Homo sapiens: one gene and its partners. The protein of the gene in region 1 purifies or fractionates together with the protein of each later gene. This does not show direct contact. Each region holds a gene or a part of one and is shown in the gene's direction. Other genes may lie near its edges.

Region 1 (5,260 bases):
CATGAGGGGAGCCGTTTCAGGATGGCCTCAGGATGGAGGCCGCATGGTGAGAACCGCAGGGCTCTGCCATGTGCCACTCTGCAAGGGGGACTTGGGGGCCCTTAGGGACCCCCAGGGAGGAGGCGTGGGGAAGACACAGGCATGGCCTGTTCATCTCCATGGCGCTGGGCCTGATCTGGTTTTAGCCCTGCCCATCGTCTGGGCCACGGATCCCTCTGGTGCCTCCACTCGTGGGGCTCTGAAAGCCTCTGCTGGTCTTTGTGGTGTGTTTGGTGGGTGGGGGGCTCGCTGAGTCCCAAGGAGGCGGCCTCCGGTTCGGCCCCACCCTGATGGGTCAACACTCTGGGCCCAGGGCCCTCCCAACCCCTGGCCTCTCTCCAGCCCCTCTTTGCCTTGGGACCCCCTGTAAGTCCTTGCTGGTTGGATTTCTCAGGCCCAGCCGCTGGCCAGGGCTCCCTTCTCCCATTCTCCTGCGCTGAGGTTTCCAGCAGGGAAGCCTTCGCCACCTCTGTGGCTGCCCTACTCTGGCCCAGCTTAAGTCCTCCCCTGCCTCAGCTTTTGGGGTCTGGCTCCTGCAGTCATGCATCCCTCCTCCTGACCCTGGAGCCACTGCGTGGTCACTCCCAGAAGCTGGGGACAGTGAGGGCTGGAAACAGCCTCCATCCCTCCCCTCGGGCTGGCCTATGCCTCTTGGGAGGGTCCCTGAGGCACTGCCTTTAGAGCCTGGGGACACGAACCACTCGGTGGTCAACTCCAGCGACCAGAGCACGGAGAGCAAGGGGCAGCGGGGGGACGAGGCGGATGCCCGACAGCTCGGCATCAGCAAGGCAGTCCAAGACAGAACAAGGCACCCGACGGGTAGAACGCAGGGGCATCCCGGGCACAGCCCCCAAAGCCACCTGGGACCCACAGCTGTTTGATGTGCTCAAGGCTATGACCCCAGGCTTCGAGAAAAGACTCCACCAAGTTCCATGAGCACCTGTAGGAGAGCCGGCCTCTGGGTAGATTTCACCCAAAGAAGCTAAAACGCTCACGTGGTGCTTATGGGATCACAGACGTGTTTGTCCCTGATGCTGCAGGAGAACTGGCCACTCACAGGTGGACCTGATGGCCAGAGCTACTAGCGGGGACCAGGGGTAACATGGGTCCCCCTCCCCGAGCCATGAAGAGCTGCCTGCGGCCATCTTGGCCCTCGCACCCCGTCTCTGTCACCCCAGGCCCCTGTAACTTGCTTAACGCTTCCTGAGGGGTGGTTTGGGTTTTTTTTTTTTTCTTCCTCTCCTCTTGTAGCAACAGATTAAAAAACAACACCCTGACCCAAGCCGAGACAGGTTCCAAACCTCAACCTGCAGCCGGAAGGGGGAAGTGAAACTCGGCTGGGGGTGGGGGCTCAGAAGCCGCCCCAGAAAGCACTGAAAGCCACAGCACGTACACCCACTCCAGGGATCTGCCAGCACCCTGTGGGGCCCAGACTACAGGCTGATGGCGGAGGCTTCGAGTGACCCGGGTGCCGAGGAGCGGGAAGAGTTGCTGGGGTAAGGGTCTGCGGCGACGCCCGGCGCCCTGTGCCGTGTCCACGGGTGCATAGTCCTTGAGCTGCATGGAGGGTGGAGAACTGAGGTGCCTGATGGGGAATCTGGGGCCCCCAATGGGAGAACTTGGATGTCCGATGGGGAAACTGGGGACCCACAGACAGGTGGCAGGAAGTCTTGCTGGGACCCCCCTCTCACAACAAGGGTGGAGGTCTCTTCCGCCTGCCTCTGTGCCCTGGACTCACTGGGGGAGGCGCGTGGGATCCTAAGCCCATGGTGGATGCCTGAAGCGAGGAGACCCCAAGACGTGTCCTGGACTGCCAGGGAGGAGCTGGGGACTGTGGGCCCTGTTAGCTTGGGAAGAGGCAAGGTGGGGGCTGGGGAGCAGCTGTTCTGGGATGGGTGGAACTGGCCCGGGCCTGGCCACCTGCCCACAGGACTATCTGAGAGGGGCTATCCTGCCTTGAGGGTCTGGAGGCCGCCAGGCTTGGGGCCCAGCAGGCCTCAGGGCAGGGCACCCAAAGCTGCCCTTGACCTGCGGTAAAGGACAAGGCCAAGGATTCTGGCAGGTGCCTGTGCTGGGTGCCAGGCACCGTGTGTTGGTTGGAGTGGGGACATGAGGGGGCATGGCAGAGGTTGTGTGTAGGACTGCCAGAGCTGGGCAGAAAAACCCCGCTGCCAAAGGCCTCCTAGCGGGCAGCTGTACTCTGTGGTACCAATGGGCATCCAGCCCTGTGCTGGGGTGGGTGGAGAGGGCTAGCGGCTTAGTAACTGGGCTCCCTGGCAGAGGGGAGCTGCCGGCCAGCAGGCATCCAGGCATCACAGCTGAGCCTCGCCAGGGGAACCCGAGTTGCCCCCGGTGCAGGTCCCAGAAGAGATGGGAGGGCTCAGGGCGTGCGGTGCAGGGACAGGTAGGGCTTTGAGGGGCAGAGGGGCGACGTGCTAATGGTCAGGGGATGGGGATCCGGTGCTGGGGATAGAGGCCGGCCTAGGAGCAGGTCAGCGGGGGCTGTGGCCTGGTGTGCGGAAGGGAAGGCGCTGGGGCCCAGGTTGCAGAAAGAGTGTGATGCCCGCAGCCACACAGGACGGACCTGAGAGGAGGCCCAGGGTGACGCTCACATACCCCAAAACTGCAGCCAGGGCTGCTACCAGTCTCTGCCTTGGTGCTGACAGCAGAGGGTCCCGGTCTACCCGACCCGGGGCGGTGCAGGGACCACCTCCCGGCCTTCACACAAAGCTCCTGTGCTGTTGGTGGCTGCAGTCACTGTCCTGTGTCTGTGTCCTTGGTGGCCGTCACATTGCTGTGGGTCTGGTATGTGTGAGGGGTCTGCATCTCTGACTTCTTGCTGCCAAATCCCACTTGGGTACAGGTGCGGGGGGCCACTGAAGGGACCCCGAGTGCCGTGAGTGGAGTGGAGGCTAAGCAGAGGCCGGGGCTGGCTGAGGGCTGGGTCGGGACGTCCGTGCCTGTCCCCAGGGAGAGGTGGGAGGATGCCCTGCCCAGGCCGTGTGCAGGGAGACAGGCTTCTGGGTGCACAACAGCTGTGTCCCAGCTGCAAAACGGGCCCTCCTGTCAGCACCACCCCCAGCCCTGGACTAGGTGCTGCTCCTGGTCACCTCATGCCCATAGAAGGGCAGGACATGAGCCTCTGGGCTGGGGCACCCCCGCCTTCCTCCTTGGCCTCATCCTTGGCCACCCCCTCCCAGCTGTCTCAAATGCCCTGGATCCCCCGGGCCAGGAGCGGGGAGGGGGGGTTGGAGCGGGCATGGCCAAGGCACAGATGATCCTGGGGCATCTTGGTGCAGATCCTGGGAGGCCAGGGCTGCACCTGTGCCGGGGCTGTCAGGCGCTCCAGCTGGAGAGCGGCGGTTCTCCTGGGCTCTGCAAAGCCTGGACCCCCTCCTTGGACATCCCCTGCCCCCGCGAATTGCATGGGGTGCGCAGCCAAGCCTGACCTTTCAGAATGAAACTGAGAGCCCCAGTGGGGTAGGCTTCTCATTTCACAAGGTGACTAAGGGAACCGGGGAGTTTCCTGTCTAGGATGGGACAGAAGTCCCCTGCACCCAGGCAGGGATGTATGGCCTGGGAAGCCCCCACACGGGAGTCCCCAGGAAGGCCCAGGCTGGGCAGGCTCAGCTGGGGCTGGAGCAGTGGACAAGACAGCCCCCCGTGCATGTCACAGAGTGCCAGGTACGCCAGCCTGTGACGGTCTCAGGACATGCCCTCAACACTAGGTCCAGGGCAGGCCAAGCCCCTCCAGCTGGACAAGTGGGTCCAGCCCCTCAGACTGTCGCATGATGTGGCCCCTCCCCTCAGACTGCCCGGGACGGGGCCAGATTCCTCAGAACCACCCCTCCATGATGTGGTCTCTCAGATGCCCCCAGGACAGGACTGTCCTCTCCCACGAGGCCTCAGGCCAAAGAAGGTCCCCTGACCCTGGGCGGGGTCCAGGCTCCGCTTCGGCTACCAGCCAGGCTGGACTGCGGTTCCTCCACTCGGGGGCACTCCTGTCTCGCCCCGCTGTCCAGCAGACAGTCACTAGCTTGTCCTTGTCCCTTGGGGGCAGGGACGAGGATTTCACAGAGCTGCCTTGTGGCTCTGGGGGGACTCTCTGGTGACGCTGGGGGATGCCTGCCCTCTATAGCCCCCAAGAGCAAGGCTCTCCCCACACTGAGGAACTATCTGGCCTTGGAGGCCTTGAGGCGATGAGGACGGGGCGTCCTGGTCCACAGCTGGGGAGGGTCAGGTTGCCCTCTCAGACCTTGGGTTCGACATATCCAGATGTTGGAGCCCAGCTCTGCAGGGGTGTACCCTCCCTGGGGTCACACTGCATTTTTGGCTGCAGTGCCTGTCCTTGGCCCAGCTGCCCGGGGGTGCCCACCCGCCCAGGCGTGCCCACCCCATGTCCACACCTAGAAGGCAAGTCTGCCTGCCGCCACCCTGTCCCACAGACACCCTGGCTGCCCTCTCAGTCTGCCCCTGTGTAGCCCAGGCCCCCATCAGGATGACCCTACCCCCAGTCTGTTCCCCATGAGCGACCAGGCCGTGTCTCCCACGGAAAGAACCATTCACCAGCTACAGGCAAACTCCATGCCCCTGGGTGGCCATGCCAGGCCCTCCTGGCCTGGTTGAACTCACTTCCCATCCCACCAGCTTTCCCAGCTCTTCCCAGTTTTGGAAGGTGTCAGAGCCCTGGCACATGCCCCTCCTAGCATCACCCAACCGCCCTGCTCCTCTGCAGACCTTCAAAGGCCTGCCCAGCCCGCGGTGGGAGGCCGCTGCCCAGGGCTCTGGCAGCACCTGCCATGGACAGGGCCAGTCCTGGAGCCCCGCCTGGCCCATCGGAGCCTCCCTCGCTTCTCTGTGTGCTGAGCTGAGTTGGGAAGGGCAGGGATGACCTGAGGGGCTGCTCTGGCAGGGTTCCTTCTGGCCATCTGTCCCTGGAGACCCTCAGAGCTCCAGATTCTGAAGGAGGAAGGGGCTGGAGGCCCCCGGCAGCCCCCTGGAAGTCTTCATCTGAGCAGCAGGAGCCCATGGGATGGAACCCCCCAGGCAGCCAGGCCCTTGGGCAGCCCTCCCGCCCACCTGCCCTCCGAGCCAAGGCCAGGCACCACCTGGAGGATGTGCAATGCTCCACGCTGGGGCAGGTGGCCCTGAGAGCCCCCAGCGGTGCCCACGACTGCTCAGGAAAGAGGGCAGAGCTGGGGACAGTTGGGGAAGCCACCTC
Region 2 (4,539 bases), on another chromosome or scaffold:
AGAGCTGTGAAACGCTGACCACCTACGTGGATTTTTCTTCCCTTATCCTCCACCCACAACATAAGCATTTAAATTTGTATTTGCAAATTGCCAGAACTTTGTAGCTCAAAATGAAGCTTATAGATTCCTTGAAGCAGCAGTTTTTCCTTGGTGCCTTTGATGAACCTGTCCTGAAAGAGTCCCCCGACAAGTCTTTAGGGAAATTGATATCTTAGTGATAAGTGTACAGTTAACCTTTTACAAAAATTAGTTTGTTTGGGAAAAAAAAAATTGCCCTGATTCTGAATGTTTGCTTTGGTTACTTCTGTCCATTTAGAGGCATATTCTAGGAGAAGAGGCTTGATTCTCCTTTCATATACAGATGCTGCTTAACTTATGATGCAGTTACACACAGATAATCCATCATATGGGTTATGAGTGATTTCTATCTTGATTGTTCCATGTGATGAGATTATTATCAAAGTCCTGCCCACCAAATGCCATGATCACCTCAAAAATATATTTGAAATAGGTTTAAGGTTTCATTTCCAACTTATATTTAGGACAGATGCAAGCGTAATGTATAAAATAAATTGAAGTCAATTTTTATGAAGTTGTCATATGTCATATGAAGTTGAAAATATCATAAGTTGAAAATGCATTTAATACACCTAACCTACTGAACACAATCACTTAGCCTAGCCTACCTTAAACATGCTCAGCACACTTACATTAGCCTACAGTTGGGCAAAATCATCTAACACAAAGCCTGTTTTATAATAAAGTGTTGGATATCTCATGTGGTTTATTGACCACTGTACTGAAAGTGAAAAACAGAATGGTTTATGAGCACCACTGTAAAGCTGAAAAACCCTAAGTCAAACCAAGTCAGAGACCATCTGTATTGCCTACTTAGAACCACAGTTACATGTTAATATTAAGTGTTCTATAGTTTTCTTCTAAAGTGATTGCCCTGGATCTGTTCTTTCCCAGAAGGCCTATTGATTTTCTTATTCTCTGCAAGAAATGAAATTTTTCTTTAGAGCAGGTGATGGTAATGATTTCAGCTCTTTTCACTGCCACATATTGTTTGAAGGCGTTAGTAAATCCTTTGTGAGCAGCTGTTAACTTTATATTAACAGATTAGAAGAAATTGCCTTTTCCTTCACATGAGGCCATGTACTTGAGTCTTAGCTGTTGTTCTTATGAGTGATTTCTGTCTTGATTGTTCCGTGTGATAAGATTATTATCAAAGTCCTGCCCACCAAATGCCATGATCACCCCAAAAGTGTATTTGAAATAGGTTTAAGGTTTCATTTCCAACTTATATTTAGGACAGATGTAAGTGTAATATATAAAATAAATTGAAATCAATTTTTATGAAGTTGTCAGCTACTCCTTAGAATCAACTGACCTGTTTCCTTTTTTTAGTGGTACTTTCATTTGAAACTATTTCTAATGTGCAGGAATTTTTTTCCTTTAGTGTTGGGCAACCATTCCAAGGGGCTTACCTGGAAATCAACAAGAACCCCAAGTATAAGAAACTCAAAGATGCCATTGAAGAAAAGATCATCATTGCTGAAGTCGTGAACAAAATTAACCGTGCTAATGGGAAGGTAAAAATGCTAACCTTGAAGACTGATAAGAAGTACCTATTAGTTGGGATAGTCACCCTGTTTTCTGAATGTAAAAATTTGCATTTCATGTTCTCAGTAGAGTTAACTATGAAGGCGGCTATTTCCCCTTACCTTTAAGCTTAGGTGGAATTTTGCTTGTTCTCTGACATTTTTATGAAATAAAACATATTATTTATGTTCTTTACTGCGTTCTTGGTTTACATAGGTATGTTTGTTGAAGGATATTGGAATTTTTGCAAATAATGCCTTAAACTCATGGACCATTTTTGAGTATTTGTGATCATTGGTTTTATACTATTTTTTATTTTGATTTAGAGTACATCTCGGATTTTCCTCTTAACAAACAATAATCTCCTTCTTGCTGACCAAAAGTCTGGACAAATCAAGTCAGAGGTTCCATTGGTGGATGTGACCAAGGTATCAATGAGCTCACAAAATGATGGCTTCTTCGCCGTCCACCTCAAAGAGGTAAAGGTTCAACAGAAGATTTCTGTGCTTAATCTCTCAGCCATTGATTTAAAAAATTTCCATATCTGATAATCCTATCGCAGTTTATATATCTGCCTTGCTAATTTGCAAATTTTGGATATTCACCCCTATGTAAAATCTCCGACTCAGTTTTTCAGTAATTGAATAAAGTTAATCACTTTTATTGGCCAGTTTACTTTACTTTTTGAGACTAATACATAGAAATATCAAGATGTTTTAAATTTTGTTTTCTCCTGTTTTTTCTTCTATGTATCAACTTAGTAAATGTCTTAATGTTCATCTCTAATCTGGGGGTTTACATTAAAGGATACAACTAAAATAAAATAACCGCCAGTTAATTTTAACCTAAATAATTTTTAGTGTTCTGTGCCTTTAGCTTAACCAGGACTCCTGGCTTGGATGCAGTGGTTACATGTAGGTTCTGGAGTTGGTCTCACTCACTTTATGATAATTTTGGCCAAGGCATTTAATTTGTGTGTGCCTACCTACTTTTTCTCATCTTTAAAATGGGGATAGTAAGAGTGCCTACTTCATAGCATTGTTGTAAGGATTAAGGATTAAATGAGACACTGGAGGAACAGGGCCTGTCACATAACACATAGTCACTGAATAAACAAAAGTTAACAAATATTGATCATATGTAGGGACATGTGTCTAGCTAATAATGTTACTCTCTGGCCAACCCTAAACTTAGAAAAATCCCCAAAGCTTCCCTTAGCCTGTTTACCCTACTTTGGATCTTAACTTAAAGGGGGCATATCAAATACTAGGACAGTGATTCTCAACCTCAGTGACACATGTAAACAGCTTGGGAACTTTAAAAATTCTGATGCCCAGGCCATACCCCTATGAAATCAAATTAGAATTTCTCAGAGGGGGCACAAGCATCATGTTTTTTTTTTTGTTTTGTTTTGTTTTTTTTTTGAATAAACCCAGATGATTCCCTTGCACAGCTAAGGCTGAGAGCCACTGCCCTAGGATATTTGTTGGAAGTGTTGTCATTAGGGTTTTAACCAAATCACTGAAAAGTTTTTTAATCAAGTCCTTCAGAAGAGTTGCGGGATAGGTCCATGCTCCTCAAACCTGAATGTGTAAACCCATACCTGGAGGTTGCGTTGTGGTTTCATATTCACTGGGGCTGTGGTAGGGCCTGAGATTCTGCTTTTCTAGCAAGCTCCAAGTGATGCACATGGTGCTTCTGCTGCATCCACCGACTTTAGGTAGAAGGGGATTAGGTAACCTTACTAAAGTGCTCTGAGCAAGTTGGAAGAAACACTGCTTTTGTCATTATTGTTTACCTTGGGAGAATGGATTCCAGGATCTGATGTTTTAAAGAGACTGTAAGTATGTTTTTAGCCAAGCCTGTAAATATTGACCTTCTAAGGTATCTTTAATTATGACCGACTCTTGGTTTGTCCTTGCAGGGCTCAGAAGCAGCTAGTAAAGGAGACTTTCTCTTCAGCAGTGATCACCTGATTGAAATGGCCACCAAGCTCTATCGCACAACTCTCAGCCAAACCAAACAGAAGCTCAATATTGAGATTTCCGATGAGTACGTTCATGTATTGTTTGAAAACCCTTTTTCTCTTTCAGCTTTTTTGTTTTAGTTCAGCTCTCGATCTCATTCATTAATACAACTACTTATTAAGTACCAGGTATGTGTCTAGTAGTTGTTCCACATGATAAATGGGCAGTGAATGACACTGACCAAGTCTCCAACCTCATGTACCTGACATCCTAGTGGAAGAGACCAGTATGTACAAATAAAATGATGAAATAGTTGATAAGATTTTGGCTAACAAGTGTTTATGGAGGAAAAAAAGGGTTAAGAGTCAGAGAGTAGGCCAGGCGCAGTGGCTCACGCCTGTAATCCCAGCACTTTGGGAGGCCGAGGCAGGCGAATCACGAGGTCAGGAGTTCGAGACCAGCCTGGCCAACATGGTGAAACCGTCTCTACTTAAAATACAAAAAAAATTAGCTGGGCGTGGTGGCGGGCGCATGTAATCCCAGCTACTCAAGAGGCTGAGGCAGGAGAATCTCTTGAACCCGGGAGGCGGAGATTGCAATGAGCCGAGATCGTGCCACCGCAATCCAGCCTGGGTGACAGTGTGAGACTCCGTCTCAGAAAAAAAAAAAGAGTCAGGGAGGCCTCTTTGATGTGGTGACATCTGAGACTGGTATAAATTTGAAATTTGCTTCTTCAATTTCTCATTAGGGTTCTGAATATAGAAGTTAGTTATTTGCATACAGGTTGGGGCATCCCCAGATTTATTGTATCTATCTATGTAAGTGTTTTGGAGAAATCTGAGTTACTGTGTTGATTATACTTAATTGGTTACCTTTCAATAGATTGTTTACCTGCTTATATACTTCTTTGCATGTCTAGATTGCTCAGGAAATTATATTCTTTTCTAATTAAGAATTTTCTAGTCTA
Region 3 (5,017 bases), on another chromosome or scaffold:
AGGACACAGAGTGCTGCCAATAAGGGAAAAGATTGCCAGACTGTATTTAAGAACACCTGTTTATCAAAATACGTTAATAAGGTGAAAAGGCAAAAGAGTGGAATATAACTGAGGATACACACACCATTGAATCTATTCAATACACAGGACTATCCAGAAGAAAAATGGACAATAAATCTGAACAATTCACAAAACAAATCCAACTGGCCAATAAATATGAAGTGATACTCAACACATTAGGATATAGGGAAATGCAAGTTTGAACCTCAATGAGATACCATTACTCACATATCAGAATTTCTAAAGTGTTTCAATTTTTGTAACTTCAAGTGTTGTTGAAGATGGGAAACTGCACTGTACAATGGTACTATAACTTTGGAAGAGTTCAGGCTTATCTCTGCCGAAGTTGAGGTTAGGCTTTCTCTATCACCCAGCACTTCCAACAGCAGGCTGTGCGCGTGGACAGGAGGATTCTGGCAAGGAATGTTCGCAGCAGCACTATTTGTAATAGCTAAAACCTGGAAACAACCTAAATGCCCATTAATAGTCAAATGGATTTTTTTTTAAACTGTGGCATATTCATACAGTGAAAAACTACAGCTGCATAAAACCACAGATTAACAACAGATTTGAACAAATGAAGACATACTACAGAGGGAAGAAAAAAAACAAGGACATGATCACCGTAAGGGTCAAGAAAGTGATCATCTTTAGAAGGGAGTTGGGACCCAGGAGGGACAGGTTGGCTTCTGGGCTGTAGGCAATGTTCTCTGAGTGACTGGTTGCACAGGTGTTCACGTTGTAAAAAGTCATGAAGCTGCACATTTATTTTGTTTACACATACAACATAACTTATGTTGTATGTTCTTATATGTTCGATTCACAACAAAAATGTTTTAAAATAATCTGAAATATTAGATCACTGCTTATTTTTAAATGTATGGCATATACCCCTTGAAAAGAGCGTTCTCATTGTGAGGACTTTAGAGAAATTCATTTTCTTGAGAAACAAAATTTGGTTAATGAGTGTTTCTCATTAATAATCTATACATCAGGATTAAGAGCTGATTTTATTAAGGTCTACCCTACCAAAAGCTTTCCCATAATAATCCAAAATAAGACGTTTTCCTATTTCTATATAAATTCCTTTGCATGAGACATTTGTTTATTAAAACACTTAAAATTGTATTTGGAATAAACCACCTAAAGTGGTTTGTTCTGAAAAAAAAAAAAAAAAAAAAAAGCCTTTTAAGAACTTGGGTCTTTTTGTTGTGGTCATTTAAAATCAGTATTTTAGACACTCCACTCGCTCTCAGTGTAGAGAGAATGTATTCGATTGCGTGTTGGAACTACGTGTAGACAAAACGATCGCGGTTAAAGCTTGCGGCTCAGAGCCCACCTGGCCGCGCTGCTGGGAAACGGACGGAGCGGCGCTTCAATCAGAGGTGAAGGTGCAGCAGCTGCTTAGCTGGCTTTGGTCCATCACTTCTGGGGACTTCAGATTCTCAAAATCTTAAATTCTAAACCCCACAGGAATGCAAATCTGCCCACCTTTTCCCACATAACTCTACCGTCGCTCAAACTCTTCCTGGTACCAGCGGGGAAGCGGAGGAGACCCAGGCAGGGGCCCGCGCTCGCTCGGCTGCAGCCCGACTCCCCTGCGCTCCCGGCCCAGGGCCGCGTCCCGACGGGGAAGTGCGCTGCGCCCGGGCGCCCCCGAGTGGAGGGGGGGGGAAGGAGGGAGCCGGCGGCGGGCGGGGCGGGGCGCGGTGACAGCCGAGCCGGGCCCGCCCCTGGCTCCCACCCCCGAGCCCACAGCTCCCGCCCGCCCGCGGCCGCCCGGGAGCTCGTCCAGCCCCGCGCTGCGCTCGCCCGCCCGCTGCCCGCCGGAGCACCGCGGCCTCCGCCCGCGTCCATCTGCCCGCCGCCCGCGCCTGTTCCGCAGCCCGCGTCCGCGCCGGCCCCACAGCTCTGCGTCCGGGTAAGCCCCCACCCCGCCTGGGGTCCCCCTCGCGCTCGCGGGGCTCCCTGCCCCCGCTCCGGGGCCTCAGCCATATCTGGGCAAAATATTCAGCTGTCGCCGCCGCCGCCAAGAGGGACTGAGCGTGGCTCCCTCTATAAATAGCTGCCGCCTCGGGTTGCCTCTGGGGCTAGGGAGCCCGGGTCTCGGGGTTCCGAGCCCAGCGCTCCCGTCCCCGCCTCCCCGCGCGCGCAGCCCTGGCCAGGGCGCCCTCCGCTCTGGACCTCCGCACCGCGTCTGTGAACGCGAGAAGGACCCGGGGTTCTGGAGGAGACGGCGCCCCGGGCTGGGGTCCTGGCGGAGGGGCGCCCCCGCCACCCGCAGGACTCCAGCGCGGCGGGGCTCTGAGCCCGCGGGGTGCTCAGCTGGGTACAGGTGCCAGCCGGAGCTGGGCTCGGGGGCGCGGCCTCTTCTCCGCCTGCAAGAGTCTGGGGGTGGGAGTGGGGGAGTAAAGGCTCGACTGGACGTGGATCCCAGGTTCGCGCTGAGAGTGTTTGGGGCAGGTGAAGTTTCCCAAACTGGGAGAGACAAGGTTTAAAGCACCACGACACGCGCTACGCGGCCAAGTGGAGCTGGAAAGAGCTTGGAGGCGGGAGCCCCAGGTTGTCGCCGGCTCTCGGCATGGCCTTGGCAATCCCCCTCTTGTTTCTGGATCTCAGTCTCCCATTTGTAGGGGCGAGGTTTGGTAGCCGCGATGGAGCTGGGAGCCCAAGCCCTGAGAGCTGCAGGGCGCGCTCTTGGCCGCCTGCGCTCCCCACACCTGTTCACCCTCTCCGGGCCTGGGACGCTGGGGTCCCAGCCGCGCACATGCGGAGACGCTGCAGAAATCGGAGACTGACTGCCCCAGACTCGATCGTATCCTGGGACTCACTAAGGCCGTCGGATATCCTAAGCCGTACAACCCTAGGAAGTGCACTTTTGGGGTGCCTATGGGCATCTCTCTGCTCCGTAGCCGGCAAAGCAGCCTGTGAGCCACGCAGCTTCAGATGCGATGAGCTGGGCAGGGGCAGTGGTTCCAGTACAGCCGCTCCCTGGCCACAGTTTCCCGGTCTATATCGGGCCTATGATGCGTCCTCCAACCTGCGCAGCGCCGCCCCCTCCTACACCCTTCACCCACCGCTACTATTACAGACCCTGTCTCCAGCCCTCGCCCTATGCCCTCAGACTCTCGGAGACGACCTGGCCCAAGCTCCTCCGTGTCTGAATCGCAGAACCAGACCCTGAACCCAGGTGCTGGGCCCTCAGCGTGAGAACCCCTAGGGCCCCCACCCCATCTTTCTTCCAGAGGTGACTGCCATTTTGTCCTCTGTGCAGGGCCGCAGAGCCCCCTGCTCAAGGTCACACAGGGCCGGTCACGCCAGAAGTTCTGCAGTCTCCCAGCCTTTCCCATCTCTTTCCGCACCCTTCCCACTGCTCAGGCAGGTCCGGGAGCTCTGGGAGCACCCGATCAATGCCCCCTCTTCTTGAATCTGCTGCTGTTCTGGACTTTACCTTGTCTGGACAATAGCGCCCTCATCCTGAAGTTTCCTTTTTGCTTCTACTTTACTTTCTGTTATGTGTTTTTTTCTAAAGCCATCTCAAAGACTTACAGAAAAAAGAATTAACGGGAAATGGAGTCAGATAATAAAGTTTCCATCAGTTAGAGCCACACAACCAACAGGCAGAGTGAAAACAAGAATACTGTCACTTTGGTGTATTATCTTTAATGAGCTAGTCTTACAAACCCGTGTTTTAGAGAGTCATTGACCCTTGAGTTTCTCCCAGCCTAAGATGAAAGCCAGTGTCCTCTAAAAATAGCCTCCGCCCCACCTTATCAGGGTCTCACACCTTCTCCCTCCTTCAGGGTAGGGCGTTTTCTTGCAGCTCAGCAAAAACAGAAAACACAAAGTAGGTGTGGCAGCTCTGAGCAATGGGAGGTGGACTGGCCTGGAGGTTAGGATATCTGGCTCCAGCCCCAACTCTGCCACCCACTCAGAGGAACCTTGAGCAATGAGGGGGCAGACAAGGTGGTCTCTAGTGGACCTGGAGTGGAGAGGGCTTAGAGTCTTCCTTGGAAGCCTTTCTAGCATGACCCATCCTGTAAGGAGGAGCTGGGGAAGGAGTGAGAGACAGTGGCTTTCCCAGGTGCCAAGGGAGGACAGAGGTGGGCAGTGTCACTTGCTGTGGAGAGACAGGAGTAGGGGGATGAGGACTGGGAAAAGACCATCAGGATTGGCAGGGATCATGAGTGACTTAGACCAGGGTATTGCAGCAGGCTCAAAAAATGAGATCTGCCAGTGACCCAGCCTGTCTGAGCCTCGTTTTCTCCTCATACAATGGAGACAACAATAGCCCCATTTCATAGGGGCTGCTTGTGAGAATTAAGTGAGATGATTCAGGGCAAGCCCTCAGCCCAGAGCCTGATATTGCAATGATAGTATTCGTTGTGGTGAGGGGGAAAGGCAGGAGCTAACAGGAGCTGAAGAAGTTCTCCACTTCTTCAGGCTGTAGGCTGAAGAAGGCTCTCAACAGAGCCAGCAACTCTTTCTAAAAGCTTGGATGAGAAAGGAAGGGAGAGGGAAGGTAGCAGGAACTGAGGACAAGGAACAGAAGGGAGGCAGGCATTCTAGGATAAAGAGTATGGCAAGTAGTGAGAAGAACCCAGGAGAGGGGAGAGAGTTAAAGGGGAATCTAAAAGGTGTGCCCATAATGAGGATTGGGGACCTTCCTTAGTGACTTGCAGAATGTCACAGACTCTGCAGGTGGCCTTCATCCCCTGGAATGAGCAAAAAAAGGTAAAACGAAGCAGATCCTGGCTCAGACCCCTATGTCTCTGGCAGACCAGTATCTGCGATGGAGGATGGTGATGGGCTGTGAAGAGTGTTTTGACCCTGCTCTGGGGCCTCATAACCTTGGCTTATTTATTTCTGAAATGACATCATCTATCGATGACTCCTGCTGAGCCCGGTCGTAATGGCCTTTTCCAGTCAATGTTTTGACTTTTCAGTCTTACTAATG
Region 4 (4,539 bases), on another chromosome or scaffold:
TTGTGTGTGGGTGGGTGTCTTTGTGCTCACATGCATGCAATATTATCCCTAGCTGAGAGCCACTGGCTCTTGCTGTTTTCACCCCCTGGAATGTCCTCCTTTCCTCATCTCTGCCCTCATTCCCTGCCTGCCATACTCTTACTCATCCTTCAAGACCAGATGTGAGAAATCTTTCCCAATCCCCCAAAACAGGTCAATGTCACATTCTCATGTGCTCTCAGGATACATGGACATTTATTCATAACAGAGAATTTATCATATTCATATTCCTCACCAACCTATGGAATCCTCAAAGGCAGATAGCCTGTTCAGAGGTAGATCCAGGTTTTCTGGTGCTTTGAACCTCATAATGCTTGGGGGCAACCACCTTTAAGAAAAAGAATGTAAATCATGAATGCAGAATAAAATGCAAGGCTTTGGAAGGGGAAGGTGCAAGTGAGTGGCTGTGAAGCAAACCTACCTTTAATCCTTTTGCGTTTTCTGTGATGCTACAGAATTTGCCCTTCCCCATGTTTAATACATCTTAAAATGAATTAACTGAGTACTCAAATGTTGGCTGATTGGTCTTCAACCAATGGAATTATTTCTTTTTTTTCTTTCTTTTTTTTTTTTTTTAGCAGACAATCTTCTCAAAATACTGTACTTTAATAGAACTTAACTGTGTGTTGGGGCAGTGAGTTATAGATTAGAAGAAAGGCAGGAAACAGACACACACATACTCACCACACCACCCCTGTATTCTTTCTCTGTGGCTGTTTGGTCATTTGGAAAATTTGGTGGGACAAAGGGTGTCTCTTGCTTGCCAGGGAAAAAAACCCATAGATACCCTGGGTGGTCTTCAAGTAAATGTAAACCTGCCATTGGTTCAGGGCTCTAGTTAGAAATAGCTCTAGTTAGATTTATAGGAGAGGTGAATGGCACACTAAATCTTTTTGGCTTCCATGTGAAATTCTTTGGCAACCTCTTTTGAAGGCCTTTGGAAAAGGACAGTTTGCTCTCTGCCTGTTTTGTACATTGGCTTCATATTGGGACAAAAATGGGAATTTGGGTTTTGGAGCTGCCATTTGGAGTGAATCACCCTGCCGCCTGGTTTCCTTTCCTACTCCGTGACAGATTTCCGAGACTATTTTTATTCAGGGTCATTTCTTGACCCTGGAGACTTCTGCTGAATTTAGTTCCCAAATAGAGCCAGATGTGGGTGGAATCAAGCACTTAGAAGTTGCTACTGGTTCATTTCATTGCAGGTTCTGATGGGATCTACTTTTCTTTTTTCTTTTTTTTAGACGAGGTCTCACTCTGTCACCCAGGCTGGAGTGCAATGGCACAATCATGATTCACTGCAGCCTTGACTTCCCCAGCTCAAGCAACCCTCCTACTTCAGCCTCCTGAGTAGCTGGGACTACAGGCGCACACCACCAAGCCTGGCTAATTTTTTTTTTTTATTTGGGAACTACTTTTACATTAAAGAGATACACTTTGGCTTTTTGCTTAACTTTGAGACAAAAATGTTGAATCTGATATAGCTAGAAATGTGTTTATTTAGTGATCTCCATATTAGCTCTATGTGGAGAGCTGTTCGTTGACATTCTCACCTAAGTGTGAGTCAGCTAAGCAAAATGGACACTATCTCTAGGAGTGACCTCATTTAATGATAATTCTCTAGTACCCATTTGTGGTGCTGCCACTGGAACTGGTTTGGGTCATTGTATTATTGCCCAGCCACTGCTAAGTCGGGGAACTTTACTGTCAGCAGTGGCTCCAGCTCCGCTGGGTAGATTACCTGTTCATGAGCCTCACCGACATGGCCTATAAAAATGCCAACTATATTCATAATGGGGTCAGAGGGTAACAGCATTTTAAAATATGCATTGTATGTCTCTCCTTTATCATTTATTAGATGCCTTGATTTGGATGACAGTTTTATTTCCTGTAGGAAGCAGGCTTCTTTCAGTTCAACTGCAATGTAATTACTGGCTAGATCTCTTTTTTTTTTTGAGACAGGGCCTCGCTCTGTTGCCCAGGCTGGAGTGCGGTAGTGCGATCTTGGCTCACTGCATCCTCTGCATCCCAGGTTCAAGCGATTCTCATGCCTCAGCCTCCCTAGTGGCTGGGATTACAGGCACGTACCACCACTCCCAGCTAATTTTTTTTTTTTTTTGTATTTTTAGTAGAGATGGGGTTTTGCTATGTTGGTCAGGCTGGTCTCAAACTCCTGAGCTCAAGTGATCCGCCCGCCTCAGCCTCCCAAAGTTTTGAGATTACAGGCATGAGCCACCGAACCCAGCCAAGATCTCTTGAATAGAACAATGTTTTCCAAACTTTAGTTTTGAGCATTTGTGGGAAAAGAGAATCAAAAGTATGCTTCCAATAGGGAATCATGGAAAGAGCACAGGCTCTGAGACGTAAATGACCAAGTTCAAATCTCAGCTTCAGCTGAGCATACTTCTCTTACCATAGGCTTCCCTAAGCCTCATTTCCTTATATGTAAAATGATCGCCTTTTAGGGTTATTGAGATGAAATCACATGTTCAGCAAGTGCCTGGTATATAATTCTCACTCAACTAATGCTAACTCTTCCTGAATCCTTCCCGAATGGCCTCACCTCCCTACCCTGACCCCATAACTGCTAGAGAGCTAGATATTTTCATCTCTTCCTTGTCATTTCTTCCTCCCTCACTAAGACAAAGTTTTGTCTTTTTTGTTTGTTTTGATTTTGTTTGGGGGGCAAGGATGAAAGTTTGCAATGGCGCAAACTAGGGAATTCAGATTACCTAGCAGAGAGTGCAAGAACACGAAATAGACAAATCTGGACCTTAATCTTGTCTTTGTTCCTTTACTACCACCTGTGTGACTTTGGACAAGTGACTTAGCTTCTTTGAGCCTCAGTTTTTTCATCTATAAAGATGATGTGTTCTTGTGAAATTATAGCACATTTAAAATATGTGTCAAATACCTATGGTGGTGGCTGAAGCATAGTAGATACTCAGTGGGTACCCCTCTGTCTCTGCTCCATTCCCTGGTCCAGCCCTGTGAACCAAAAATGCCCTTGCTATTCCCAATTCACTCTGTAACTATCACCCTATGCATTCTCATAATCACATTCCCTCCAGGTATCACTATTTAATTTCTAGAAATCGTTTTAGACTCTTTGGAAAATGAAATATATTCATATTTAAGAGATTTCTAAACTATTTTATTCTGCATGTCACTGTTCTCAGCCTCCGTGAAGGTTTGTAACATCTAGGCACTATTGCTAGGTAATAGACTTTAAGTCTAGAGTTTTTTTTTTGTTTTTTTTTTAAATCTATAACCAATTTCCTCATTATCTATAGACCCTATATGTTTTTCATATAATCTCCTGGTATTAAAGCTAGCAACTACTTGAATTCTTTTTTTTTTTTTTTTTTTTTTTTTGAGACGGAGTCTTGCTCTGTCGCCCAGGCTGGAGTGCAGTGGCATGATCTCTCGGCTCACTGCAACCTCCATCTCCTGGGTTCAAGCAGTTCTCCTACCTCAGCCTCCTGAGTAGCTGGGATTACAGGCGCCTGCCACCATGCCCAGCTGATTTTTGCATTTTTAGTAGCGACAGGGTTTCACCATGTTGGCCAGGCTGGTCTCGAACTCCTGACCTCAGGTGATCTGCCCGCTTTGTCCTCCCAAAGTGCTGGGATTACAGGCGTGGGTCACTGTACCCGGCCAACTACTTGAATTCTTACAGTGTGCTTAGTGCTGGGTTGGGTACTTTGGTGGGGGTTACTTTTAATAAAGTTACTCTTTGAGGGATAGCTTAATTGGGAGTAAGAGATACCTTAATAAATGGATCAATATAAAGTGAAATATGATTGAGCTCAAATGAATAGCACAGACAATTCTTTTTTTTTTTTTTTTTGAGACAGTCTCACACTATCACCTGGGCTGAAGTGCAGTGGCGTGATCTCAGCTGACTGCAACTTCCGCCTCCTGGGTTCAAGCAATTCTCCTGCCTCAGCCTCCCGAGTAGCTGGGATTACAGGCACCTGCCACCACATCCAGCTCATTTTTGTATTTTTAGTAGAGATGGGATTTCACCATGTTGGCCAGGCTGGTCTCAAACTCCTGACCTCATGATTCACCCGCCTTGGCCTCCCAAGACAATCCATTCTTTTAAGGGCTTCCTACAGAGAAGGAATCAATATATCATATTTTTAGAAAAGAGAACTGATGACAATATAATTAAGAGCTGTCTATATGTATGTACTATATTATGAGGGAATTCAGAAAAAGAAAAAATGGCATTGGGAGTAGGTAAAAAATGCCCTATGGAAGAGGTAGAATGTCAGCAGACCCTTGTTGAAGTAGAGATAGTCTTTCATTTGGAAACAGTCCTTCCTCCCCCTGCCCTGTGGCCTGAGCCATCCTGGCCTTCTTTTCTTCTCTCTCCACTCACTTTAAGCATGCGTGGGCTGGCTGTGCTGCTAGCCAGCTTCCATTGCTCAAAAATATTTTCCCCCACATTGTCTGCACTTCTTTCATTCTTGTCTTATGCTGCCCCAAATTCTC
Region 5 (5,339 bases), on another chromosome or scaffold:
CCCAAATCACCCATACATCACCCATCTGCCTTTCCTCTAATAAGGAGGTACAACCCTCTGTACCTCATTGGGATATTGGCCAATCACTCTGTGATTCTCCCCCATGCCCGCTGATAAATTTGTATGCCATTTGTCCTGTTAATCTGCCTTTTGTGACTTGATTTTTCAGTGAAACTTCAGAGGGTAGAGGGGAAGTTTTCCCTTGGCCCCTACACTATGAACTGAGATAGACAAAATAAATTAGTATGTTTATAAAGTGGAATACCATATGGTCAGTAAAAACCGGTAGCTCTATGAGTACTGTGTGTTGATACACAGACACACACACACACACACACACACACACACACACACACACACACACGGGGGGGGATTCGAAAAGGTTATATGTTACATTTTCTGTTAAAAATTTAAAATAACTACATTACCTATATTCTTGTTGACAAAATTTGAGTGCCTGGAAAAATACATAAGAAACTGGTAACGTAATTGCCTTTGGGGAAAGCAACTGGGTGGCAGGGTGAAATGGAGATAATTTTTTATTGCACACATTTTGTACTTTTAATTTTTTTACCATGGTCATGTAATAACCTATTAAAAACATAATTTAATTAAGGAAAAAAATCTAATTTTGCATTATTATTGACCTTCCAGGGATTCATGTAATTTGAGAAATTGAATGAAAACAATTTTACATGCATGAAATTCAGCTTTCTTACTCTATACATCCTGAGTGATTTGCCTTTTTCAGTAACAGAATCCTTTGCTATACCAGCTTGTTAAATGAATGCCAAATCAAGAGTAAAATTTCCATCTGTATTCCATAGTGTTTTAGCCATGCTGCAAAAGCAAAACCTGTAGGTAAAACAAAGAAAATTATCACCTTGAAGCTAGGTAACAGGTAACCCAGAAGTCCGGCCAAGCATAAAATTACAGCCACAAACAGCCCTGCAGAGAACATCTCAGGACGGCGGCTGCTGGGTTTTTGTTGTTGTTTTCATCTTTCTTGGCCAAAGGAAGCAGGTGTTAAGAGAGCTCAACCACAGCTCCTGAACTCTGAGATTTACAGAGCTCTGTCACCTGGGGTAATACTGCCATTCTTCCAGGTTTTCTTCCTGTCCAAGAAATCTGACATGCTGTTTTTCATGGTATTTTCAAACTGGAAGATCGAGACAGAAACTTTGGTCGTCAGGAATGCAGAGATTGCCCAATGAAATGACAGAATTGATCATTAGGATGCTTGTTACTCAAAAAGCCCATTTTTTAAAGAAGGATGTATTAAAATTATTCCAGCATGCTAATGTGGCACACTCCTCTGCTGCCTAACGGCAGGTGTTGCTATTAGCAGAGGAAGCCTTGTTCTAAGAATTATTCTAGAGGGCCAGAAAGAACAGGTATTGCTCCACCCGAGTAAACGCTGACTCAACTCTGCAGGGCTGGCGCGCTCTTTCCTCACCTCACCCCTCCTGCCAGGCACAACTGAGATCCAGAAATAAGAGGATTAGCGAGAGAAGGGGAAATATGCAGGACGGTAGTGATGGGTATGCACAAAGGAGTGCCAAGCAGTTTTAACCGTTAATGTTCTTCGTCTATTGCTAGAGAAAATGTCTTTCCTTGGAGGAGGCATTGGCACGAGTTACTATAAACTCCCTCTGAATCTCAAGACTTCTGGGACGCCGATTCCGCTCCTGGCCTGGGGCAAGGCGTGGGAGCTTGGAAGCCAGCGCTGCGCTCCCCGTGGGAAGCGATCGTCTCCTCTGTCAACTCGCGCCTGGGCACTTAGCCCCTCCCGTTTCAGGGCGCCGCCTCCCCGGATGGCAAACACTATAAAGTGGCGGCGAATAAGGTTCCTCCTGCTGCTCTCGGTTTAGTCCAAGATCAGCGATATCACGCGTCCCCCGGAGCATCGCGTGCAGGAGCCATGGCGCGGGAGCTATACCACGAAGAGTTCGCCCGGGCGGGCAAGCAGGCGGGGCTGCAGGTCTGGAGGATTGAGAAGCTGGAGCTGGTGCCCGTGCCCCAGAGCGCTCACGGCGACTTCTACGTCGGGGATGCCTACCTGGTGCTGCACACGGCCAAGACGAGCCGAGGCTTCACCTACCACCTGCACTTCTGGCTCGGTAAGGGACGGCGGGCGGCGGGACCCCGACGCACCAAGGCCGGCGAGGGGAGGGCGTAGGGGTCTGAGATTTGCAGGCGTGGGAGTAAAGGGGACCGCAAACTGAGCTAGCCACTCGCGCCCCCACGGGGCTGCCCTTTGGGGCCGGCCACTTTCTCCCTACCGAAGTCAACTCGCCGGCTGCAAACGCGGGGCTCAGGCGTTGTCCGCAATTGACTTACCTCGCAGGCTTTGACCTTTGCCAGGTGTAGTTCCTGGACTTTGGAGCTGGTGACTGGCTTCTTCCCCTTTCACCGTCAAGTATCCAAACGCCACTCTTGTCCAGGGCCGCTGCCTCAGCGCACACCGTCTCTGGCCAAGCCCCGCTCACCTTCCGACAAACTCAGTCCTGCTTTCCCTGTCGGGATGGAGAGGAAGTCATAAAGTCTGGGGGCATCTGCCGCCGCTAGGAAGAAGTCCTTTTCTTTTTCTTCACACATTATTTTTATTTGTTGCTTTCGGGCACTGGCTTATTTTCTCTATGATTGCGGGAATTATTGTTCTGGGCTTCTTTAAAACAGGATTCTACCCGCACCATGCTGCTTGTGGGTCTGGTAGACAAAAACTCCGCTTCATTCGGAAGCTGGCGTCCTCAGATAGAAGTAAGAAAAAAATACAGATATTTTATATACAAATAAATAGCTCTATATGGGTATTTCATATATTTATGTAGACTGCTTTATTGTTATTATTTATTATTTATTTTAGCAAGGACACAAGATGGAACAGAAACGGCTCCTTCAGCAGTAGTAATTATTTTGAGCTGCGTTCGTGCCAGGCTGTCAGGACACTGGGCCTTGTGTGTTCTTTTTCCACCTTCTACTTTTACTCATAAACATCCTGAATGTCCAGCCTCTCCCCAGGAGGTCTTGTGCCAGTGGGCACACCCTGTCTAACAACATGCCGATTCTCTGAGCCTTTTTGCCTTCTTTTAAAACTAGCTAGCCTGCCCAGTACTCGTGTTTGTTTAGTTTTATCCCTGAGCTTAGGAGGAAAACACACAAAACCACACACACTTACACATTTTTGAGTCCCTGAAAGCCAACACTGTAATTTCCAACATTTGAAGATTTTAAGAAACAAAATAATAGAAAACATTGAGTAGTGACTGTCTAAACATTGGCAAACACCTGGAACAGGCATTTGAGAAATGAGAAATGAAAAATACGTAGATGAAGATAAGACTTTTAATTATAACATTTGGAGTCAAAAATTTGTGTTAGCTTGAGGAGGCAGAGAAGGCTCAGCCTGAGTTCTGAACACATTTTGGCTTCTTGATGCATTGCTGTTATTCCTATTATAATGTTGTAATACACAGTCATCTATTTGTATTTTCTGCCAGAAAAGACTGAAACTTTTATAACCCATGTTCAAGAATGAATGATGCCAGATAGAATAATGATGTCCTTACAGAGGACTTTCCATGCAGAACTTAAATCTAGCATGAATGAAAGTGTTTGAAATGCCACATTTGCCATTTGAGTAAATTAAAATGTGAAATAATGCCATATCTTACTGTAGACAGCAGTTAAGTTTGACTTTGTCAGATGACCGCAAGGGAGATTTGAACACAATTCTTTAATTCTATACATTTTTATCCAAGTTGTCCTCTTAACTACTATATTTTGTAGGGTTTACAGATTCACCTTATTCACTTAATTATCTACTTAATTATCCACTTGATGCCCATAAATTTCAAAAATATAATAGAAAATGGTTTGGGCAGAAACATTTATAATCTTAAAGACATGCTAAAACTGAAGTCAATAACATGTTAATAACAAGCAAATTCATTCAGTAATTATTCAATATGGCCAGTACTGTACAAGGCACTTGTGGATATGAATAATTAATGAAACTTCTCTAAAAGTTCATCACCTCAAAGGTGCAAAAAGACAAAAAGTGATATAACACAGGTAGAATGTGATAATTACTGTGAAAGCACAAAGTTTCTGTGGTTATTGGGAAACAGAAGCCTTTAGAGAAAAAAAAAATGAGAGTACTTGGAAGTGTTCTTGTGTCAAGAGAGAATTATGGAGAGAAAAAAAGCTTCAAGTAAAATAGTCAACAGGACTTTCAGATGGGATTGCCCAACAGCTCTTCCTACTTCAGTTCCCTAAGAAAACAGAATTTCATCCAAAATAGTGTAGTCTAAGACCTAAATTAGGATGAATCCATGAGGATTCATCAGAGAGACAGATTGAGAGAAAGTCACAGGAGAGAGAGCTGAACTTCCAGGGGAAAAGAACATTTGGTTAAAGGAAATCAGCCGGAAGAAAGAGAAACTAAAGTTAAACTGAGATGAAAAAAGGTGCATAGCATAGAAATGAAGAAACAGGCCAAATGGGAGGCAAAAAGGGGAAACAGGAAGAAGTTGGACCTAGAACAAGAGAGAACAGAGCAGGAGAGTCGTCTTTCTTGGTCTCTCCCTCAGTGTTTCCATAACACTTGGCATATCTCAGATTATTTTATTGTATTAACATTACATGCTTGAATGTATTAACATCATATGCTTAAATGTAATGAAAGTAAAAATTTATTGCAAAGAACTTAAATGTTATTGCATTAGCCCTTCTTTAAAAACATTTCAGCTTTGCACCTAGCAGTTTAAATGCATCCATTCACCTCTGTTTGTAGTTCCTTATAGCACCAAATCAATGGGTAGGTCTAGATAGTAAAACTGCTCCCTGTCACATCCCTAACCTAAGGTACAAACACTTATCCTCACTCTTTCTCTTTGCCAGTTTTAAACTTCACACAAATATATTTTAAAGCAGTATACATTTATGTTATAAGTGGGCTATACCAGGCCTTGTGCAATGCCCTGGGAATCCAAAGGATTGGATTACAATATACGATACAAAGAACTTATACGAAGGACTGGCTAGAAACTGGATCATTTACATTGCTGGAGCATGGGGGTGGGTACATGCAATGGTACAGCACTCTGGAAAAGAGTTTAGTAGTTTCTTACAAAACCAAATATACTACTACCATATGAGTCAGCAATTGCATTCATAGGTATTTATTCCAGAAAAATGAAGTTTTGTATTCACATGAAAACCTGTACCTGAATGTCCACAGCAGTTTTATTTGAATAAACAAACACTAGAATCAGCCCAGATGCTTTTCAACAGGTGACTGGTTAAACAAGTTGTACATCTGTACCAACTAATACTAC
Region 6 (4,539 bases), on another chromosome or scaffold:
GTTATTTAAGGGCCCAAGTCATGCTTCCATCAGCTCAAGTCTTTAATCCTATTTTCTGTTTTCCTAACTGGCTCCTGTACTTGCCCACCAGGACTCCTGGAAGCCTTGTTAGGCATTTGCTTCACTCCAGCATGTACATTAGCATCATATTGCATGTTAAATGCTTGCCATGGGACAGACACACCACTGGAGGGGAGGCTGTAGCAGTGCTTGCTAACTTCCCACGGCAGCATTGCTAACAGGACGGAAGACAAATGGGAGCCCTTGGGCAGCCTTGGTGGGGGCAAAAGCAGACCAGCCATGAGCTGGAAAAGCTTTGATTTGACTTTAAAAGCTATGAGAATACTGCATTCTTCTCCACAGTATTTCTATATTTGCTTTTTAAAAATACAGCCTGGGCAATGTAGCGAGACCCTGTCTCTACAAAAAATTTAAAAACTAGCTGAGTATAGTGGGACATACCTGTAGTCTCAGCTGGGGTCAAAGGAGGTGGGGGGAATACTGAGGCAAGAGGTTCACTTAAGCTCAGGAGTACAAGGCTGCAGTGAGCTATGATCACATCATTGCACTCCAGCCTGGGGAACAGAGTGAGACCCTATTTCTAATAATAATAATAATAATAATAATAACTAGCTTTTCCCCAAATCTTCAGATCAAAGTTGTGCTCCAGGAGGATGCAAGTTTTTTTTTTCTCCTCTGACTTTGAGATCCCCTGGTACATTGACACAACATAGGCAATTTGTTTTAACAGCTACTGTTACATAGTATGAACATGTTATTTTAATTAATTAATGTATTTTCCTACTGAAGTATGACATGGCACTTATTTTCTGGGAGTTTGTAGTGTAGCTGGAGAGAGAACCATACATGCAACATACATGAAAAGATAGCAAGATATGTCAAATTGGTGATGTAGGCATACAAATTTAGAGGAAGGGGCAACTTCTGTGGGCTTAGATGATCTCAGAAAGCTCCATCACAGGGAGAGGAAGCAGTGGATAGAGTGGAATGAGCTCTGGACCTGCGGGTTCATTTGAACTCATTTCTTTCACATGACATTTGTTACACAATATTTATTGGATACCTACTTCAGATCAAGAACTGTGCTGGGAGTCAGGATTTTATCAGTGAATAAAACTCATACAGTCCCCCTCCCTCACAGAGATTAGCAAGGAAAATAGAGATAAAGCAAGTAGTTGTAATAAAGCCAAGAACAGATGTGATTAAAGGGGTAGCATGGAGATGGGGAGTGACCCAGACCTTGTCTCCAGGTCCAAACAAGGCTTCCCTGAAGAAGTGAAGCTTGCATGAGACCAGGGGATGAGTAGGATAGCAGTCAGCCAGAGGGGAGTGGGGTGAGAGTGTTCTGAGCAGAGAGAACAACATAAGGCATGATCCAGGCATTGGAATTGGGCCAGGAGGCTGGAGCCAGGAGGAGATGGGGAGTGCAGCACAGGATGAGGCTGACGAAGATGACAGAAGACAGACTGAATTTGAACCTTATCCTCAAGGCAGCAGAAGCCACTGGAGGATTTTAAGTAACTAGAGAAGAGTTGTTTAACTCTGTGCTCACTTTGGCCATTTGTATGGCGAATGGATCAGGAAGGGATAGGGTTGAATGTGGACAATGCAGATGAGTGAAGTGGGTGGATTCTCAACACGTTTAGGTAAGGACAGGATTTGGTGATTGATGGCTGGAAAAGAGACGAGAGAGAGAAGATGTTAAGGATGGCTCCCTGGTTTTTCGGCCAATTTCCTGAAATGGGAGATTCTGGAGGAGGAAAGATGATGAGAGCACTTCTGACATATTTGAGGTGTCTGAGGCAGCCAAGGAGAGATGTGAATTAGGCAGATGGAAATATAGGGGCCTAACCCTCAGGAAAAAAGTCTAGGATGAAGATACAGATTTTGGAATCTCCTGGATATATATTATAATTAAAATTTTGGAGGCAGATGAGTTCCTCCAGAGAGAATATGTAGTATGGAAATAGAAGAATTTATAAGATGAGACCTTGAAGAATGCCAGTATTTAAGGTGGAGGAAGAAGAATTGCTAAAAGAGACCAAAAAGAAATGGTCAGAGAAATAGAAGAAAAACCATCTATGTTGCTGGATTGAGCAATCTTTAAGGACTCTTTCAGCTCTGACATTCTGTGGTCCTGCAGAACTGGGATCTGAGCCAGGTCTCAAGAGCAGAGCGCATAGATAGGCCATGAGAATAGAGAACAGCATTCCAAGTAATATTAATGTATCAGCCAGCATCCCAACAAGAAACGGGATACACTCGAGTAACTTGAGAAAAATTTAATAAAGAGGCTATTTACAAAGATGGGGGGAGGATTTAGGGAATCCAACAAGGCAGAACTCTGGCACCAGCTGCACAAGGAACCCTTACCACCCAAGGCCTGAGGCCAGCCAGGGGCAGGCAGCTGTATGGAGAGGGCTGCCTCTTGGGAGATGTGACCTTCTGGACCCAATCTCCCCCTCCCCTGCTCTCCAGTTTCCTGCTAGTGCCCCCTGTGGGCCAAACAGAAGCCAGACAGAAAGGGAACCCATTGATACAGTCTAAATAGATCATCTTCCTGGAGCACAGAGCAGCAGGGGAGTGGATGTGGAGGTGCAAACAGAAGACAGCCAGAACAATCATCCTGGAAAATGGAAGTATTTGGGTAAGAGGGTGTGTTCATTCCCTATTGCTGCTGTAACAAATTAGCATAAATCCAGTGGCTTAAAACAATACAAACTTATTCTTACTTTTGTGGAAGTTAGAAGTCTGAAACACATGTCACTGGGCTAAAATCAAGGTGTCACAGGACTGTATTCCTTTCTGAAGGCCCTAGGGGAGAATCCATGTCCTTGCCCTTCCCAGCCTCCAGAGGCTGCCCACATCCCTTGGCTCATGGCCCCTTCCACCATCTTCAAAGCAAAAAAATTGCATGACACTGACTCTTCTGCCTTCCTCTTCCATCTTTTAAGAGTCCTTTGGATTACATTGGCACACCCAGATCATCCAAAATGGTCTTTCTATTTTTAAATCCTTAATCTGGGCTGGGCGTGGTGGCTCACGCCTATAATCTCAGCACTTTGGGAGGCCGAAGTGAGTGGATCACTTGAGATCAGGTGCTCAAGACCAGCCTGGGCAACATGGTGAAACCCCATCTCTACTAAAAATACAAAAAATTAGCTGGGTATGGTGGTGCATGCCTGTAATCGCAGCTACTCTGGAGGCTGAGGCAGGAGAATTGCTTGAACCCGGGAGGTAGAGGTTGCAGTGAGCCGAGGTCGTGCCATTGCACTCCAGCCTGGGCAACAACAGCAAAACTCTGTCTCAAAAAAAGAAAAAAAAATCCTTAATCCTTAATCTAATCACAACTCATTTGTTTTGCCATGTAAAGTAACATATAGATGTGAGGAATAGGAGGAGGACGTATTTAGGTGGCCATGATTCTGCCTACCACAGAGAGCAAATAAGCCATTTTAGCCGAAGTGGGCTCCCCAGGAAAGTAACGAGAGAGAAAACAGGAAGTGCAGGTTAAAGCCAAATCATGGGAGCTTTGGAGCTAGATTGTCTGGATTTCATTCTGTGGACAAGAGGGAGCCATTGTAAGTTCTTAACCAGGGAAGTGGCTTGTTAGCAGTGTTGAGAAAAATGATCCAATTATAGTGTTCTGGGTAGCTTACAGGGAAAAACAGAAATCTTTCAAGATGCAATCAGAGTAGTGCAGGTATGAAGGAACAAAAGGCTGAAACAAGAGTGAAAAGAAGGGGTGGTGTGAAAAATGTTGTGCAATAAGGACCTGCAGGAGGTGCTGACCGGCTGGACTCAGAAAAAAAAGTGGGAGAGTCTGAAGCTGGTCTGAGTGTTGGGAGTGTCTGACTGGTAGATTAATCTAGACGGCAACTCTGTTTAGAGAAAAATTGGGAGTTTAGGTTTAGTTAGAGAATCCAGCAATAGAAATCCAAATAGAGGCTGGGCACTGTGGCTCATGCCTGTAATTCCAGCACTTTGGGAGGCTGAGGCAGGAGGATTGCTTGAGCCCAGGAATTCAAGACCAGCCTGGGCAATATAGTAAGACCTCATCTCTGCAAAAAAGAAAAAAAAATTTAATTAGCTGGGCATGGTGATACACACCTGTAGACCCAGCTACTCGAGGGACTGAAGCAGGAAGATCATTTGAGCCCAGGAATTGGAGGCTGCAGTTAGCTATGATCAAGCCAGCCTGGGCAACAGAATGAGACCCTGTCTTTAAAAAAAAAAAAAAATTCAAATAGAATCTTATAAACTCTAAGATACCATTGATTGTAAAACTCTCCAGTATTTTATGTATCACTAAGAAAAAAAGGCTGGCAATCAAAATATAACATGTTTTCTTAAAAATACAAATTTTTGGCCGGGCACGGTGGCTCATGCCTGTAATCCCAGCACTTTGGGAGGCCGAAACAGGCAGATCACGAGGTCAGGAGATCGAGACCATCCTGGCTAACACTGTGAAACCCTGTCTCTACTAAAAATACAAAAAAAATTATCCGGGCGTGGTGG

The links.
Region 2: the proteins of LSP1 (region 1) and MYO1B purify together in Homo sapiens (affinity purification with mass spectrometry; one large-scale study listed by BioGRID and IntAct). This does not show direct contact.
Region 3: the proteins of LSP1 (region 1) and TMOD1 purify together in Homo sapiens (affinity purification with mass spectrometry; one large-scale study listed by BioGRID and IntAct). This does not show direct contact.
Region 4: the proteins of LSP1 (region 1) and MYO1D purify together in Homo sapiens (affinity purification with mass spectrometry; one large-scale study listed by BioGRID and IntAct). This does not show direct contact.
Region 5: the proteins of LSP1 (region 1) and SCIN purify together in Homo sapiens (affinity purification with mass spectrometry; one large-scale study listed by BioGRID and IntAct). This does not show direct contact.
Region 6: the proteins of LSP1 (region 1) and TMOD2 purify together in Homo sapiens (affinity purification with mass spectrometry; 2 studies listed by BioGRID and IntAct, with this or other methods). This does not show direct contact.

Annotation. Positions count from the first base shown.
Region 1 is NC_000011.10:1,851,663-1,856,922, forward strand, and holds the start of LSP1 (lymphocyte-specific protein 1), read left to right. Parts: upstream 1-1,421; 5' UTR 1,422-1,482; coding exon 1,483-1,535; intron 1,536-5,260. UniProt on the Homo sapiens protein: May play a role in mediating neutrophil activation and chemotaxis.
Region 2 is NC_000002.12:191,412,586-191,417,124, forward strand, and holds part of MYO1B (unconventional myosin-Ib), read left to right. Parts: intron 1-1,462; coding exon 1,463-1,595; intron 1,596-1,931; coding exon 1,932-2,084; intron 2,085-3,529; coding exon 3,530-3,657; intron 3,658-4,539. UniProt on the Homo sapiens protein: Motor protein that may participate in process critical to neuronal development and function such as cell migration, neurite outgrowth and vesicular transport.
Region 3 is NC_000009.12:97,499,823-97,504,839, forward strand, and holds the start of TMOD1 (tropomodulin-1), read left to right. Parts: upstream 1-1,843; 5' UTR 1,844-1,981; intron 1,982-5,017. UniProt on the Homo sapiens protein: Blocks the elongation and depolymerization of the actin filaments at the pointed end. The Tmod/TM complex contributes to the formation of the short actin protofilament, which in turn defines the geometry of the membrane skeleton.
Region 4 is NC_000017.11:32,866,674-32,871,212, reverse strand, and holds part of MYO1D (unconventional myosin-Id), read left to right. Parts: intron 1-4,539. UniProt on the Homo sapiens protein: Unconventional myosin that functions as actin-based motor protein with ATPase activity. Plays a role in endosomal protein trafficking, and especially in the transfer of cargo proteins from early to recycling endosomes.
Region 5 is NC_000007.14:12,568,866-12,574,204, forward strand, and holds the start of SCIN (scinderin), read left to right. Parts: upstream 1-1,854; 5' UTR 1,855-1,921; coding exon 1,922-2,120; exon of another isoform or gene 2,121-2,516; intron 2,517-5,339. UniProt on the Homo sapiens protein: Ca(2+)-dependent actin filament-severing protein that has a regulatory function in exocytosis by affecting the organization of the microfilament network underneath the plasma membrane.
Region 6 is NC_000015.10:51,757,478-51,762,016, forward strand, and holds part of TMOD2 (tropomodulin-2), read left to right. Parts: intron 1-4,539. UniProt on the Homo sapiens protein: Blocks the elongation and depolymerization of the actin filaments at the pointed end. The Tmod/TM complex contributes to the formation of the short actin protofilament, which in turn defines the geometry of the membrane skeleton.